4 linked regions of the Homo sapiens genome follow. The protein of the gene in region 1 interacts with the protein of each later gene in a biochemical or structural test. Each region holds a gene or a part of one and is shown in the gene's direction. Other genes may lie near its edges.

What was found. The genes of interacting proteins can lie anywhere in the genome.
Region 2: the proteins of PARD3B (region 1) and ABCA1 interact in a test that uses a peptide from one of them, tested with the Homo sapiens proteins (one large-scale study listed by IntAct).
Region 3: the proteins of PARD3B (region 1) and SEMA4F interact in a test that uses a peptide from one of them, tested with the Homo sapiens proteins (one large-scale study listed by IntAct).
Region 4: the proteins of PARD3B (region 1) and CBY2 interact in a test that uses a peptide from one of them, tested with the Homo sapiens proteins (one large-scale study listed by IntAct).

The regions. Positions count from the first base shown.
Region 1 is NC_000002.12:205,612,475-205,615,974, forward strand, and holds part of PARD3B (partitioning defective 3 homolog B), read left to right. Parts: intron 1-2,981; coding exon 2,982-3,339; 3' UTR 3,340-3,500. UniProt on the Homo sapiens protein: Putative adapter protein involved in asymmetrical cell division and cell polarization processes. May play a role in the formation of epithelial tight junctions.
Region 2 is NC_000009.12:104,921,656-104,925,155, reverse strand, and holds part of ABCA1 (phospholipid-transporting ATPase ABCA1), read left to right. Parts: intron 1-2,613; exon of another isoform or gene 2,614-3,044; intron 3,045-3,500. UniProt on the Homo sapiens protein: Catalyzes the translocation of specific phospholipids from the cytoplasmic to the extracellular/lumenal leaflet of membrane coupled to the hydrolysis of ATP.
Region 3 is NC_000002.12:74,657,247-74,660,746, forward strand, and holds part of SEMA4F (semaphorin-4F isoform 1 precursor), read left to right. Parts: intron 1-318; coding exon 319-378; intron 379-606; coding exon 607-705; intron 706-3,500. UniProt on the Homo sapiens protein: Probable cell surface receptor that regulates oligodendroglial precursor cell migration. Might also regulate differentiation of oligodendroglial precursor cells. Has growth cone collapse activity against retinal ganglion-cell axons.
Region 4 is NC_000013.11:45,708,820-45,712,319, forward strand, and holds part of CBY2 (protein chibby homolog 2), read left to right. Parts: intron 1-3,500.

The DNA.
Region 1 (3,500 bases):
ACACATAATAGTCAGAAGAACTTAGAAGTTGTTCTGACAAAAGTCTGTAGGAAATTCTGTTATGAACAAAATGTTGTTATAAACAACAGCTACACACCATCCCCCAAAATAAAGAAAAATTCTTCTAGCACTCTTTGAACCTTAAACAGTGTTTTAGTAGGCCAACTCATTGTTTTTCTTCTCTCTGAAAAATTAAAAATGCTAACTGTTATGATGAGTTCCACAGAAAAAGACAATTTCCATGACTTCATTTCTTGACAAAGAACAGCTACCTCTCTTGCTTTCTGCCACATACAAGCAAACTCCCAGACATAAAACCTCCCCTCAGAGGAAGCAATATGGGACCACAAAAGTATCTTGAGGTCTGCCCTATCTGCCCACGGGAAGCCTCCCCCTCACTGTGAGCTGTGAGCACTGGCTGCCTGGGAGGAGCAAGGTGTGGGAGAAGAGATAGCGACTGTCCCCCCATGTGCTCGCCGACTGTACTGTCACAACCTCTCAGGGTGGCTTCTGCCCTGTCACCACTTGATCTGGATTCTCTCTCCAAAAATTTAAAAAAACAAGGCGTGCCTGTCTTTTATAATGCTCTGTTTTAAGAGAGAGAAATCTCCAGGGAGAGAACAGGACCCTAAAAGTCCAAGGCCTGGAATTCTTCCTTTCTCTCTTTCCATTTTAAACAGGAAGCATTCATGCTAAGAGAGTCCGGAGGGAGGGCTGGTTGTATGTTCATTTGAAGGCAAATAATGTTTGTGTGTTGCAAATGTCAGTGATTTATCCTAAGGGCTTAAAATGAGTGCAGAAAAACCACATGTTTCACTTCATGCAGAGAAATATCTTCAGTGGATTTTGAGAGAAAGTACAGGTTAAGAAAAATTTTTTGAGTGTATCGGATATCTCCAACATGAACCAAAAGGAAATGAAAATGAGCATGGTGAGGTGGAGGAGAGAGACTTAAAGAATTCTTATGATAAAAGATATACCGAAGGCTGGAAGTTTTCTAAATCAAAAATGAAATTCTAAAGAAAGGGAAAGGTGAAATCCAGAGCCTTTATTTCCCATGGCTAGAGTGACAGATTATCCATTTGTGCTCCATTTGTCATGGGCGATTTAAAATACAGCAAAGCAAACTGCACTGAATAATAGCAGCTGATGCTATAATAACTTGTACACAAACAATTTAATTTTTTATCTGAAAACTCTAACTAAATTACCCCAAGCTCAAGGATCTTTCATTATTATACATAGCCAAATTAAGACAAAAAAGTAGAGAGAATTCTATTGTTCATCCTTATAGATTTGTTCACAAGCTGCTTTCTACATGCACCGAGCTGGGAGCTTGTCAAATCTTCATTGATTTGAGCAACTTACAGAGCTGTTTTAACATCCACCTCCACAGATTACAGGGTGATTCTGACCCTCATTGACAGTGCTTGATTAACCACAGACACTGTATTCTCACAGCCCTGTCATTTCTTTCAAGTGTCCTAGCAGTGTGTCTGACATTGGGGAGCTTTCCCTTAATTATTGTTGTTGTTTTTCTTTTTTAAAAATTATAAAAGGGGGAGTGGCAAAAAAATGGGAAGGATCTGGGGATGGTGGTGGTGGTGAATGTGTGCACAGAAGGTTTATGAGATTTTAAGAGCTGCAAACAGAACTCATCTGTTTAACCCCAGGCTAGATAAAATGCAGTCATCTGCACATTGTTTAGAGGCACACTGCTTCTGTTATGGCAAACGGATCAGAAGATGCTTGTTTTCTTTAGTGAGAGATCCAGACAGGGCCACTTTCTGTTAGTGTCTATTCTTACCCTGGATGTTTCTGTGTGCCTTACCCATTACAAGGTACAACTTACAGCTGGTTTGGCATTTCCCTATTCTGCTACTGGACTGGTGCTACTTCCTGGCTTTGTGGTAGAGTTGATTACTTTATATCAAAGCTTTAGGTGTGGGCTGGGTGCAGTGGCTCACGCCTGTAATCTCAGTACTTTGGGATGCCGAGCCAGGCAGATCACCTAAGGTCAGGAGATTGAGACCAGCCTGGCCAACATAATGAAACCCATCTCTACAAAAAAAAATACAAAACTTAGTCAGGTGTAGTGGTGGGCACCTGTAGTTCCATCTACTCGGTAGGCTGAGGTGGGAGAATCGCTTGAACCCAGGAGGCAGAGGTTGCAGTGAGCTGAGATCGCACCATTGCACTCCAGCCTGGGTGACAGAATGAGACTCCCTCTCAAAAAAAAAATTAAAAAAAAAAAAAGAGCTCTAGGTGCTCTGGCTTGGGACTTTTTCTAAGGACTGTAGAGCATTTAGGGAGGGGAGGGACATATGAATCCACACCAAGATGTAACAGCAGCCAACCAGAGTTAGACCAAGATGACAGCCCGTTTAAAAGAGCACCTCACAGATTTAGAAAAGCGAGTGCAGTCCATGGAAACTTTATGACTCCAAATAACCTGAACATTTCTATCACCATGCCTAGGACAGACTTCAGCCCAGCCTGTCCTGGATATGGTGGTAGAAAAGGGGAGGGAACTAATGACCCCATCCTTAAGAGAGGCAAACTCACTGCCTTGTTTAGGAAACTAGTTTGGTTACTATAATAAAGGCCAACAGAAAAGGGTATAAACCAGATTGAAGTGTATTTTCCTCTCATGCACCAATGTGAATGGAAGCAATCCTGATTGACATGGTGGCTCCATGGCAACGGGGACCCAGGCTCTCACCTTCTTGTTGCTCTGCCTCCCATAGCACGTGGTTTTCACCTTGTGGCCTAAGATGGTTTTTCTGCTGGCCAACAGGAAGGAGAGAAGGGAAGAAGTTCCCTTCTCTTCTTTTTAAGGGCACGTATCACTTCTGCTCCCATCCCATTGGCCAGACCTATGCGGTGGCCACACCAAACTGCACAGGAGGCTGAGGAACATGTTCTCCAGCCGGACGGCCAGCTTAGGAGCTGCTAACATGTGTCTCTTCTTCTCTTTCCAGGGGAGGACCCGCAGATCCTGTAGACTATCTGCCAGCAGCACCTCGGGGGCTCTACAAGGAAAGGGAGCTTCCCTATTATCCAGGGGCTCATCCTATGCACCCTCCCAAAGGGAGCTATCCCCGCCCCACAGAGCTCAGGGTGGCAGATCTCCGGTATCCTCAGCACTACCCACCCCCGCCAGCTCCCCAGCACAAAGGACCCTTTCGACAAGACGTTCCGCCTTCCCCTCCCCAGCACCAAAGAATGCCAGCCTATCAGGAAACAGGCAGACCAGGGCCCCGTGGGGGCAGCCCAGACCAGTACCCTTACCGAACCCAGGATTCCCGGCAGAAGAACCCCATGACTGCAGCCGTATAGCTGAGTGCCACCGAGGCCAGCCCGGTCCAGAAAGGAAGGTGTCTACTCTACCTTTGCCCTTTCTAAACCTGAAGACCTCCTTGGTGTTAGGAATTCTCCATGTTACTGATAAGCTTTTTCTCACTGACATTGTAACGCATGACTGCTAATCAGAGAGAAAA
Region 2 (3,500 bases), on another chromosome or scaffold:
CCACCCGCCTCGGCCTCCCAAAGTGCTGGGATTACAGGCGTGAGGCACCGCGCCCGACCCCTGGACACATTTTGACTTAGAACATATTTTCGGTTTGTGTGAGACAGTGCATTAGTGCAGGATTGGAAAAGAGTGATCAGGAATTGATTGTTTTCAAGGATTGGTTCCTTCTGCTCAAGGAAGTCCCATTGTAAACATAAAAAAATGAATGAAACTGAAGAAGTTCAGTGACTTAGCTTTTTATTATCTTCTGTAGTACTTACCTTTTTGGAGAGGAGTTGGTTGGGATATTTTTCCATTTAAATTTTTTTTTTAAAGGGATCTTCTCTCCCGTAAGCCGGGATACTTAAGCTATATATGTAGTGGCTACAAATTAAGGTCTTCACTGTTTTCATTTTTAGCTGCTAGAATAAGTGAACATTACCTTAGATAGACTCTTCTAATTATGAAGATATCTAGATGTCTAGAAAATATCAAAATGCATGTGGTTTTTGCATTTCTAAAATACTTTTAAAACCAAATACTTTTTCTTTTTTTTTTTTTTCTGAGATGGAGTCTTGCTCTTTTGCCTAGGCTGGAGCGCAGTAGAATGATCTTGGCTCACTGCAACTTCCGCCTCTCAGGTTCAGGTGATTCTCCTGCCTCAACCTCCTGAGTAGCTGGGATTACAGGTGCGTGCCACCACACCCGGCTAGTTTTTGTGTTTTTAGTAGGGACAGGGTTTCACCATGTTGGCCAGGCTGGTCTCAAGCTCCTGACCTCAAGTGATCTGCCAGCCTCAGCCTCCCAAAGTGCTGGGATTACAGGCATGAGCCACCACACCTGGCCTCAAATACATTTTTTTAAGTATCCAGATATTAAATAAATAATACCATTATAGTAGTTGTTATGGTCATTTACTCTAGCATCAAATGTTAAAAGATCATTCTGAACACTTGTTTTGTTTATGCTGAGAGAAGGCCTACTCCAAAAAATGCAACCATCTTCGTATCTGCATGTGGATACAACCATGAATGGCCAAAGTTATTGCAGTGTTGAATAGACACTTATATAGCACTGTGTGGCAAGTACTGTTTGAAATGTTTTTCACGTGTTTATTCATTGTATTTATTTTGAGATAGGGTCTTGCTCTGTTGCACAGGGTGGAGTGCAGCTGCACAGACAAGGCTCACTGCAACCTCAGCCTCCTGCGCTCACGTGATCCTCATACATCAGCCTCTTAAGGAGCTGGGGCCACAGGCACGCACCACTGCTCCTGGCTAAATTTTTACAATTTTTTGTAAAGACAAGGTCTCACTATCTTGCTCAGACTGGTCTTGAACTCCTGGGCTCAAGTGATCCTCCCACATCAGCCTCCCAAAGTGCTGGGATTACAGGCATAAGCCACTGTGCAGGTCATCAAATGCTAATTGAATTTTCACAACAAAACCATTTATTGTCCCTAGTTTACAAGATTAAGTAAATGAGAAGCTAATTTTTCTCTGGCTATATACCTTGCAAGAGGCAGAGCTAAGACTTGAACCCAGCCAGAGTTCTTTAACTCCAGCACTAACATTTCAGCTGCTGCAACCAGGGAGCTTTTCAAGGATGATCACCACATTCTCTACATTCATCTGCTATAATCCTTATCAGAATCTACAGCCTGTATCATATTTTCCTTGTTGCTGTGAGTGGGTCAGCCAAATTCTCTTTAACTTGAAACCTTGGTTGCGTAGGGATTGCAACATCCTGGAAAGAATAGAATAAAATTTACTCAACTCAATTTTTTACTTGGTTCATAATGAAAACTATACTATTGCTTCAGTCAGATGTTTGCGAATAGCTGTGTGATCTCAAAATGTTTTCCTATGTGATCTATAGAAAATGGAATGATAGAGTATTAGGCTGTAAGGGCCTAAGAAACAAAGGAAAAAGAGAAGTGAACTGTTAGTTTAGTTGTAAAACCTAACTTTGGTGAATTGTAAAAATTTGTTATAATACAATATGATTCTTGCTTGTCCTGTCCTTGATGAAGTTGTGGACCTTTTGAAATAAGCTATTTCTCTGTTACTGCTGTTACTGTTTAGAAATCAAATTTAGTTTTTTCTTAAGATATACGTATTTTTGGAAGATAAACACAGTTTCAAAGTCTGCCTTGTTGGCTGGGTGCACTGGCTCATTGTTGTATTCCCAGCACTTTGGGAGGCCAAAGCAGGAGGATCACTTGAGGTCAGGAGTTCAAGACCAGCCTGGCAAATATGGTGAAACCCCGTCTCTACTAACAATACAAAAATTAGCTGGGCGTGGTGGTGGGTGCTTGTAATCCCAGCTACTGGGATTGGGAGGCTGAAGTAGAAGAATTGCTTGAACCTGGGAGGCGGAGGTTGCACTGAGTCGAGATCGTGCCACTTTACTCCAACCTGGGCGACAGAGTGAGACTCCGTCTTGAAAAAAAATGTCTGCCTTGTAAAAGTGAAATAGGATGAGAAAGTGCCTTTCTTATTAATTGGTGTAATGAATTAGAAATAAACTCTTTGAAGACACCTCTTGGTAAAAATAGTTACATTTACTGTTGATTTATGGTATGTTGGATATGTTTTTAAGTTTTCCGTGTAATAACTCAGTTCATTCTCATGAGTGAAATAGGTGCTTTTATTGTCTTTATAGATGGGAAACTGAGGTATAGGCAGGCTAGGTACATTATTATGGAGTTCGTAAGTAGTGGAGCTGAAGTCGCATCCCAGACAGTTTGGCTTCCGTGAGTTTACCAATCTCATGGTAAAGACTTTGTCAGACTATCAAAGTTTTGACAAATGAAATATTAGCAAAAGGCCAAAAGGGATTCTCTATTTTCATTTGAGTATCTTCACCTGAAAATAGTTGCCTGAATAAGTAGCCTGCATAGAAAGGTACATTTTAGAAATACTTGAGGCCAGAGAATGAAAAGCTTACATAAAATTGATTTCCGGTGGGGCCTTCAGTTACTCTCCATTCTACGAAGACCACAAATAGCATTCAGGCAAAGAGCATTTATTCCAACAATGGAGGAGCACTGGATTTGGTTCCTAAAACAAAATAAAGTTTGAAATCCTGTCTTTCCCATGTTGAAAACAAAGTTGGTACAAAACCCTTTAGCTTTTGCAAACCTCCTTTAAGACCCGATTTAAATGCTTCCCTCCTCATGAAGCTCTTCTGGATCCACTCCTTCCCATCACTAAGTTGAAAGTAAGATCCCCTTCTCTTTACTTCCATTAGACTTGGATTACAGCACTCTTTGTATCATGTATTTAATTCTGTTTTTTAATTACAGTTAACATTTATTTGTCTTCCTCTTGAGTGTATGCTTCTCTAGAGGAAGGTCTTTGATTCATTCTCCCCTGGCCTTAATTCATCCCACTTAATATGGAAAAAATTTAATAAATGCTGACTTGAATAAGTCCAACAAGGAGAATGGGAAGCTCATGTTTGCTTCCTGTCTTCTAAAAGACTACTTAAGATAACAGGGTAATCACAGAAAAGCA
Region 3 (3,500 bases), about 130 Mb from region 1:
AAGGGATGCTCAGTGTATACTGTGTATTGTGGTACACAATTATGTACTGAAAGAAACCTTTCTTGAAACAATATCTACCTCTTATATGTGATACATTTTGATATATTCTATTTCATTAAAAATAATGTTGGTCATGATTTCAGAATTGATTTTATTACTCATTAATGGGTGGGGACCTCCATTTGAAAAACAATGCTCTAGGGGGACTTTTGAAGTTCCCAAATTGATGGAGGTTATAGAACAGTTTAATCTCCTCTAACATCGAGGGAGTTTGATGTTAGGGGAATCTGGGTGAAATGATCACTTCTCCTTTCTCAGATTGACTGGATGGTTCCTGAGGCTCACAGACAGAACTGTAGGAAGAAAGGCAAGAAAGAGGTAGGTGTAAATCTGAGCCCTGTCTTGAGTGTCAGTTGAGACCTTGGCCCAGCCCTGACTCTCAGTCCCCTGTAATGCTTCCATACCAATGGGCCCAGGCAGAGACTCTAACACCATGCCATCACCCATCATCTCTGATCCCAAAGCTGCATCTAACTGTCCTGACGTTACCTTACCCTTCCTCGTACCTGCTGCTTCTGATTCTTTCTAACCGTCTCTGACCCCCAGGACGAATGTCACAATTTTGTCCAGATTCTCGCCATTGCCAATGCCTCTCACCTCCTCACTTGTGGCACCTTCGCTTTTGATCCGAAGTGCGGGGTTATTGTGAGTGACGGTGTGGGAGGAGAGGGAGAGGGTGCCTGCACCAGTGTGAGTTACTTGGGGTGGTGGTGGGAGGATGGGAAGGGTTTTCTGTGAGCGACCATGATGGGGGCATGGTCAAGGCAACCATTGTGCATGATAAGCATTGGGTGTAGGGGCTGTCCTCATGGGATGAGGGTATGTGTAAGCCACTGAGGGAGGGAAAGGGAGGTTGTCTGGAGAGGGTAAGATATACAAAGTGTGAAGAGAGACATAGTGGGATAGTTAAGGAAGTTAGGGATGCTGGTTGGGCTGGGGAAACAACAAATCCAGGGAGAGACTTCAGAAACCAGAAACTCATGTTTCCCTTGCCCTGTGTATGCTTTGTCCAGGCAGCCTGTGTCCATTTCTTAATTAGTACAGCCCATTGCCTGTTTCTTCCTTTCACAGCATGTGACTGTCTCTTACCACCTTCTCCTACTTCCACTGCCAACCTCATTGTATATGGGCTGTGAGTCTCTCCTCTCATGGCTTCTGATGTCACTTCCACTAATGTAATATCTGCTGGCCCCATATTCTGGATCTTGCCTTCAGGGCGGGCACTCTGTCAATCATGTTTTCTTATAGATCCTGTTTATTGCTGCTGAAGGCCTGGACATCACCAGCCTCAAACACAGGCAGGCTTGGGACATGTGTATCCTAATCACATCTAGGCTAGTCATGATCTCTGGGACTGATGACTGTTTCTGAATTCTCAGCTTTTCCCATCTGTTACACAGTAGTCAGCACTGGTCTTTTGGCAGCTCACATTTGTGACAAGCCCCTGGCGTGAGTCAGAAGCCTCACATATCCTTTATATCCAGTGGCTTCTCTTTCTGCTCTGTAGAGCAATAGGAGGGAGTATAACTGCTCCCTTTTTTGACCTCATCCTTAACTGTAGATCTTGTCTTGACTCTTCTGCAGTCCTCAGTAATCCCTGCCACCTGGATCAAGTCAGTGTGTATCTCTAAACCCCTCTTTGTTACATACCACCCTCATATCTCTGGCTTAGGATGCTAATCATAATCATATGCATGATTGCTCCAGTTAGTCCCCCTGGGCTGCCTTGGGGTGGGTTGGACTTATGTTAAGTCCTTTTCATAATGCAGGTGATACACACTCCCTACCAGCATCTGGATAGCTCCCTCATTCTGGAAAGGTTCGCAGTTCAGGGTGTTGGTGAAAATCTCTGTATTCCCTCAGGTAACATTGAGGTCTAATTTCCCTACAGTTCTCCTTAAGTTTATAAGGTAGCAATGGTACTGCCATTGCCATATTTGTCCTTTTCCATTCTGCCAGGCTTGGGGATCCCATGGGTATGAATCCCAGAGCCATGGCTTATAGACAGTGTGATTGTTCTAAGTTAGTCTCCTAGGGCCTTTAATTCTTCCTTGTTTCTCTGAGGTGGGACTCTAGTGGTTGTTACATAAGGTATCTAGACAGAAAATGTTCTTTCTGGACATACCTGTCAGGATTGGTGTGACTTGGATGCCTATCTCTTCTTGAGGAACATCAGCAATGAAGAGTGAAGCCAGGGGTCTGTGTCCTGAGCTCCCAAGAATTCAGCTCTTTTCCTGAACTCTCCTGTCTAGCAGGCTTATGAAATGAGGGCCCATCCTTTGGTCAAGGCTTGTTTGAAGGAGAATATAGAGACTAGCCGCAAGAGGTCAACTCTGGTAACCCTTTGAGCCACATCCTGTCTGCTCTGTAGACGTTTTGAAAGTTCTCTTCTGCCTTAACCTGTCTTATCCTACTACCCAGCAGCCCCAGTCTGCTTGACCAAGTTCTTCCTTTATCCTCACTGCTGAACCTCTCATGTCCTAGACTGATGACTTTGAGACTGTATATAAACAATTATCTGAGAGCTTTGTTCCAGACATAGCAACTTGATCAAAGTTGATTGTGGAGAAATGAAGGTTCTTACATAAAGGAAATTCCAGCATTGGATCTAAGGGCTCCCACTGTGGAGTGCTGTCCTTCAGTGATAGCTCATTGGACATTGGAGGAAAATATCCTAATTTGTTTTGTTGAGGGACCTCTAGCAGTTAACAGAGAAAAATGTTAGACTTCTAACAACAACAACAACAAACAGCAACAATGACAACCATTCAGTTGAGTGTCTGCTCTGATGAAGACTTGGTATTAGGTACTTTACATTAAGGATTAAGTTTAATTCTTATCACCACATCATGATATTTAGGTATTATTTCCATTTTACAAGTAATGAAACTGAAGTTCAGAGAAATTAAGTATTGTCTCTAAGACTGAATAGCTAGCAGAGGCAGAACCAAAATTTAAACCTGTGTTTGTCTCTGGCTCTGTTCCACTATCCTGTCCCTCTAGTCTAGCCTGCAGCCCAGAAGACCTTATCTGTCTTCAATTTCTTGTGGCATTTGATGTGTTTCATGTACTAGGAACCATCTTTCTTTTCTTTGCTTTTTTTCTTAGCCACCTGGGAAAGGTCCTTCCTATGCCTTAAACTCCTCTTGGCCAAGGCCAAAGGACCAGTTCCAACCCATAGCTCAGAGAGAGCCTTCCTGTCCAGCTCCAGCTTTCAGCTTCAGGGACTTTGCTTTACCACAGCTGATTCTCAGAGACTATGCTGCTGACTAACACAATGATGATACAATGAAGAATCTCAACATTCAGATAGATAATATAGTGGAGTGGTCATGTCTCTTTCAGACCCGAGTTAAATGTCATTTTGACCATGCAATAATCATAACCTATCTAGTTAATAGGAGGCTCACCTCTTCAAAGGTTAGAAACCTGGATGATAT
Region 4 (3,500 bases), on another chromosome or scaffold:
TTTCTTGGTCCTGTCTGAGGATAGGAGGAAAGATAATAGGACTCAGTCATTGGAGAAGAATTTGGTTTCCTGTTGAGAAAGTAAAGGGGACTTATTTGTCCATCAGCATTTCCTGGATTAGGTGCTGTGGGCATGGAACAAGAGAAGGCACAAAGCCTGCTTGGGAAGAGTTGGCCATTTAGGGGAGAGGACGAGATGCCAACTAGGTTGGTAAAAGAGGGCTGCTGGGGCCATAGTGGTGCCAATTTACAAATGCAAATCCACTGGACCAGAGACAGTTAGGCCAAGAGAGCACTTAGAGATAATGACTCTTACCCTTCATTTTACAGAAGTGGAAACTAAGGTCAGAAAGTGAGTGGATATGAGCAAGATCACCTGAATGTGTGAATAAAGACCAGGGCACAAACACCCAGGTTGTCCGTGGCTAGGGATCCACCATATGTTAAGGTTTTGTTTAGTGTATTTCTGTTGAGGGGATGACAGAATGTTCCTTGGGTACCCAGTGTGGAAGGTGGATGTAGAACACAGGCAGCTGAATGCCATGGGTTAAAAGCCATCATGGCCAAATATGGACAGGTAGAAAGCATCCATGATTCCTCTTTGGACCCTTAGTTGGATCAAGAAGATTGTCTCTCTGGCTGAAACAAAACGATCGTTAAAAAGAAATGAGAATTGGGGAAATTTGAACATGGGCTCAGTATTCGCAGATATTGAGGGATAATTGTTAAATGTTAAAGGGTGATAATGGTATTGTGATTCTGTTAAAGAGGCACATATTTATATATTTGTGGATAAGATGACACAATGTCACTTTGCTTTAAGATAACCTAGCGGTAGGGGAGTGGTTGTGGAATCAGGTTGAGGCCTGGTGAAACAAGTGTGGCCTTGATTTGATACTTGGTGAAGCTGAGTGATGGGTACATGGACATTTATTAGACTATTCTCTCTCTTTTTGTGTATGTTTGAAATTTTCCATCATATAAATTGAAGGAAAAGATATCATGTTCCCCAAAGTACTGCAGGACTTTTGATAAATCCATGGTGGTTTCCCATGTGTGTACTTCACACATAGAAGGTCAGGGAGCCAGAAGTGGGTTTGTGTCTTAGTGAAGGAGCTAGTGCTGGTTATTTAACATCTCTGAGTTTCAGTTTCTCCATCTGTAAAATAAGAATAGTAATAATATCTTACATGTCAGTGTGGTGAGGATAAAATGAATTTAGTAGGTAGAATGCTCAGCTCACGGCCTAGCATGAAATTGAGGCTTAATATTTGTTTCCTTCTTCCATTTTCTTCTCAGGACTGGGATGCACATGTTGACTAAAACCACATTTTTCCATGTTGATAGCTTCTGGAGTCAAATCCTGCTGAGATAAAGTATTAGTTCTAGTGCAAGGATGGAGAGAACCTCTTAAGATTCACTCCTGCCAGGCACGGTGGCTCATGCCTATAATCCTAGCACTTTGGGAGGCAGAGGCAGGCAGATCACAAGGTCAAGAGATCGAGACCATCCTGGCCAACATGATGAAACCCCGTCTCTACTAAAATACAAAAAATTAGCCAGGCGTGGTGGCACGCGCCTGTAGTCCCAGCTACTCTGGAGGCTGAGGCAGGAGAATTGCTTGAACCCGGAAGGCGGAGGTTGCAGTGAGCCGAAATCGTACCACTGCACTCCAGCCTGGGCGACAGAGTGAGACTCCGTCTCAAAACAACAACAACAACAACAACAAAAACCACCACCACAACAAAACATTCACGTCTTTGGCTTTGACCAGTCTTCCCAGAAATCCTGGATCTCAGGACCTTAAACCTATCAGAAAATGGTCTAGGTTATCCACAGTGAGGTTCATTCTGATCACAGACAGCTACAGGAGCCAATCTGCTTTCCCAGTTGAGAAATGTGAAAACCAGGGAGGCTGAACTTTTTTAAACTAAATAAAATTCCGCTTGCAGAATGCCCTCATACCCTTGCTATCTGGAAGATTGAGCGTATCCTTACAAAGTTAATGACATGTGCTTATTGCAAAGTTAATGGCATAGAACTGCATCTTCTATTTATCTAGCTCTTTAAGTTTTAAAGAATTCTAACCAACTTTATATACCATGCAAATTGTGTTTCTCTCTCTACATACACCCACACATATATATATAATGTAGTTAGCCTGACTTGTTTTTTATTTTCTCTATCTGTACGGTTGTGAAAGTAACCTAAGACATAAGGAATTGATATCTGGAGAGCATTTTGATATACTTGGATGAAGTACTTTTGGTGTATTTGGAAGTAGCTATCATGATCTGTTTACTTAAATTCATGGCTGCAATCATCACCTCTTCTCTAGTGTGCATTCTACTTGCTCACTTCTTTTTGAATACATCTTATAATTCTTGCATTAGTGAAATCTACTCTTCTTGATAATAATACCTTATGGTTCTTTGGCACTGTTGGTTTTAAAAATATTTTTGCATTCATTATCTCATTTAATCCTCACAACAGTGTTGTGAACTAAGCAGGGCACATATTATTTCTATTTTACAGGTATATTTCATTGACTTTTCAATGTTGGAAGGTGCCTTTAAGATCATGGAGCCCGACTCCCTCTTTTTCACTCGTGAAAAGTCTGGGTCTCAAAGAGGATAAGAGAGCTGTCTGGTTTCAAAGTGCCCATCAGTGACAAAATCAGGATGAGAATTCTTGTGACCTTTCAGTCTGTAATGCTGGTGCAACCCTCACTTAAGCAAATTGCCTATTCTACTTGACTTAGATCTGTCCTAACCACCTGCAGCCAGGAACACCTGAAGGAGCTGGTTAGAAATGCAGATTCCTGGGCCACACCCCAGTCTGAGTAAATCAGACTCACAATGGGAGGCTCAGAAATCTGCATTTAAAACTCACTGGAGTTATTTTTCTGTACTGGGATGTGTGAAAGCTACCAGCTCATTGGAGTTAAGCTCTGTGGATCTGAGCCCCGTTTTATGCTGTGGTCTTGAGGTCTATGGCCACCATCATGAATTCCTCAGGGTCCTTGACTGGCTTTATCACCACATGTTGAACGCTCATTGCTCAGTGATATGTCTGGGATGGGTTTTCTTTCTTTCCAAAATTATTAGTTAGACTCTGCTTTGAGTCTAGCATTGCATTAGAAGCTGGGGTGAATGTTTAAGGGGCTGCTAGCAGAAAAGACTCAAGGGTGGCTAAGAGTGAAGGATATGCCCAGATGGGCAAGAGAGAAGGCTGGGCTGACCAACGGCACCGCCATTTTGGACACAGCAATTTGGGTGGCTGTTTGGATGATTCATGCTGCTTCTCTGCTCATGCTAAGTGTGAGTACACATCTGTGGGTGGTGGCCCTTGAGAACAGTGTTTGTTCCTCCTTTAGGGTGACAGAATGTGCCAGAGCCCATGCTTAGTGCTTTTGTACATTGCCTTTTTTAATCCTAAAAATGTCTCTATGAGGCAAGGAGTAAATGCAATTATCCCAATTTGAAAATGTGGAAATTAAAG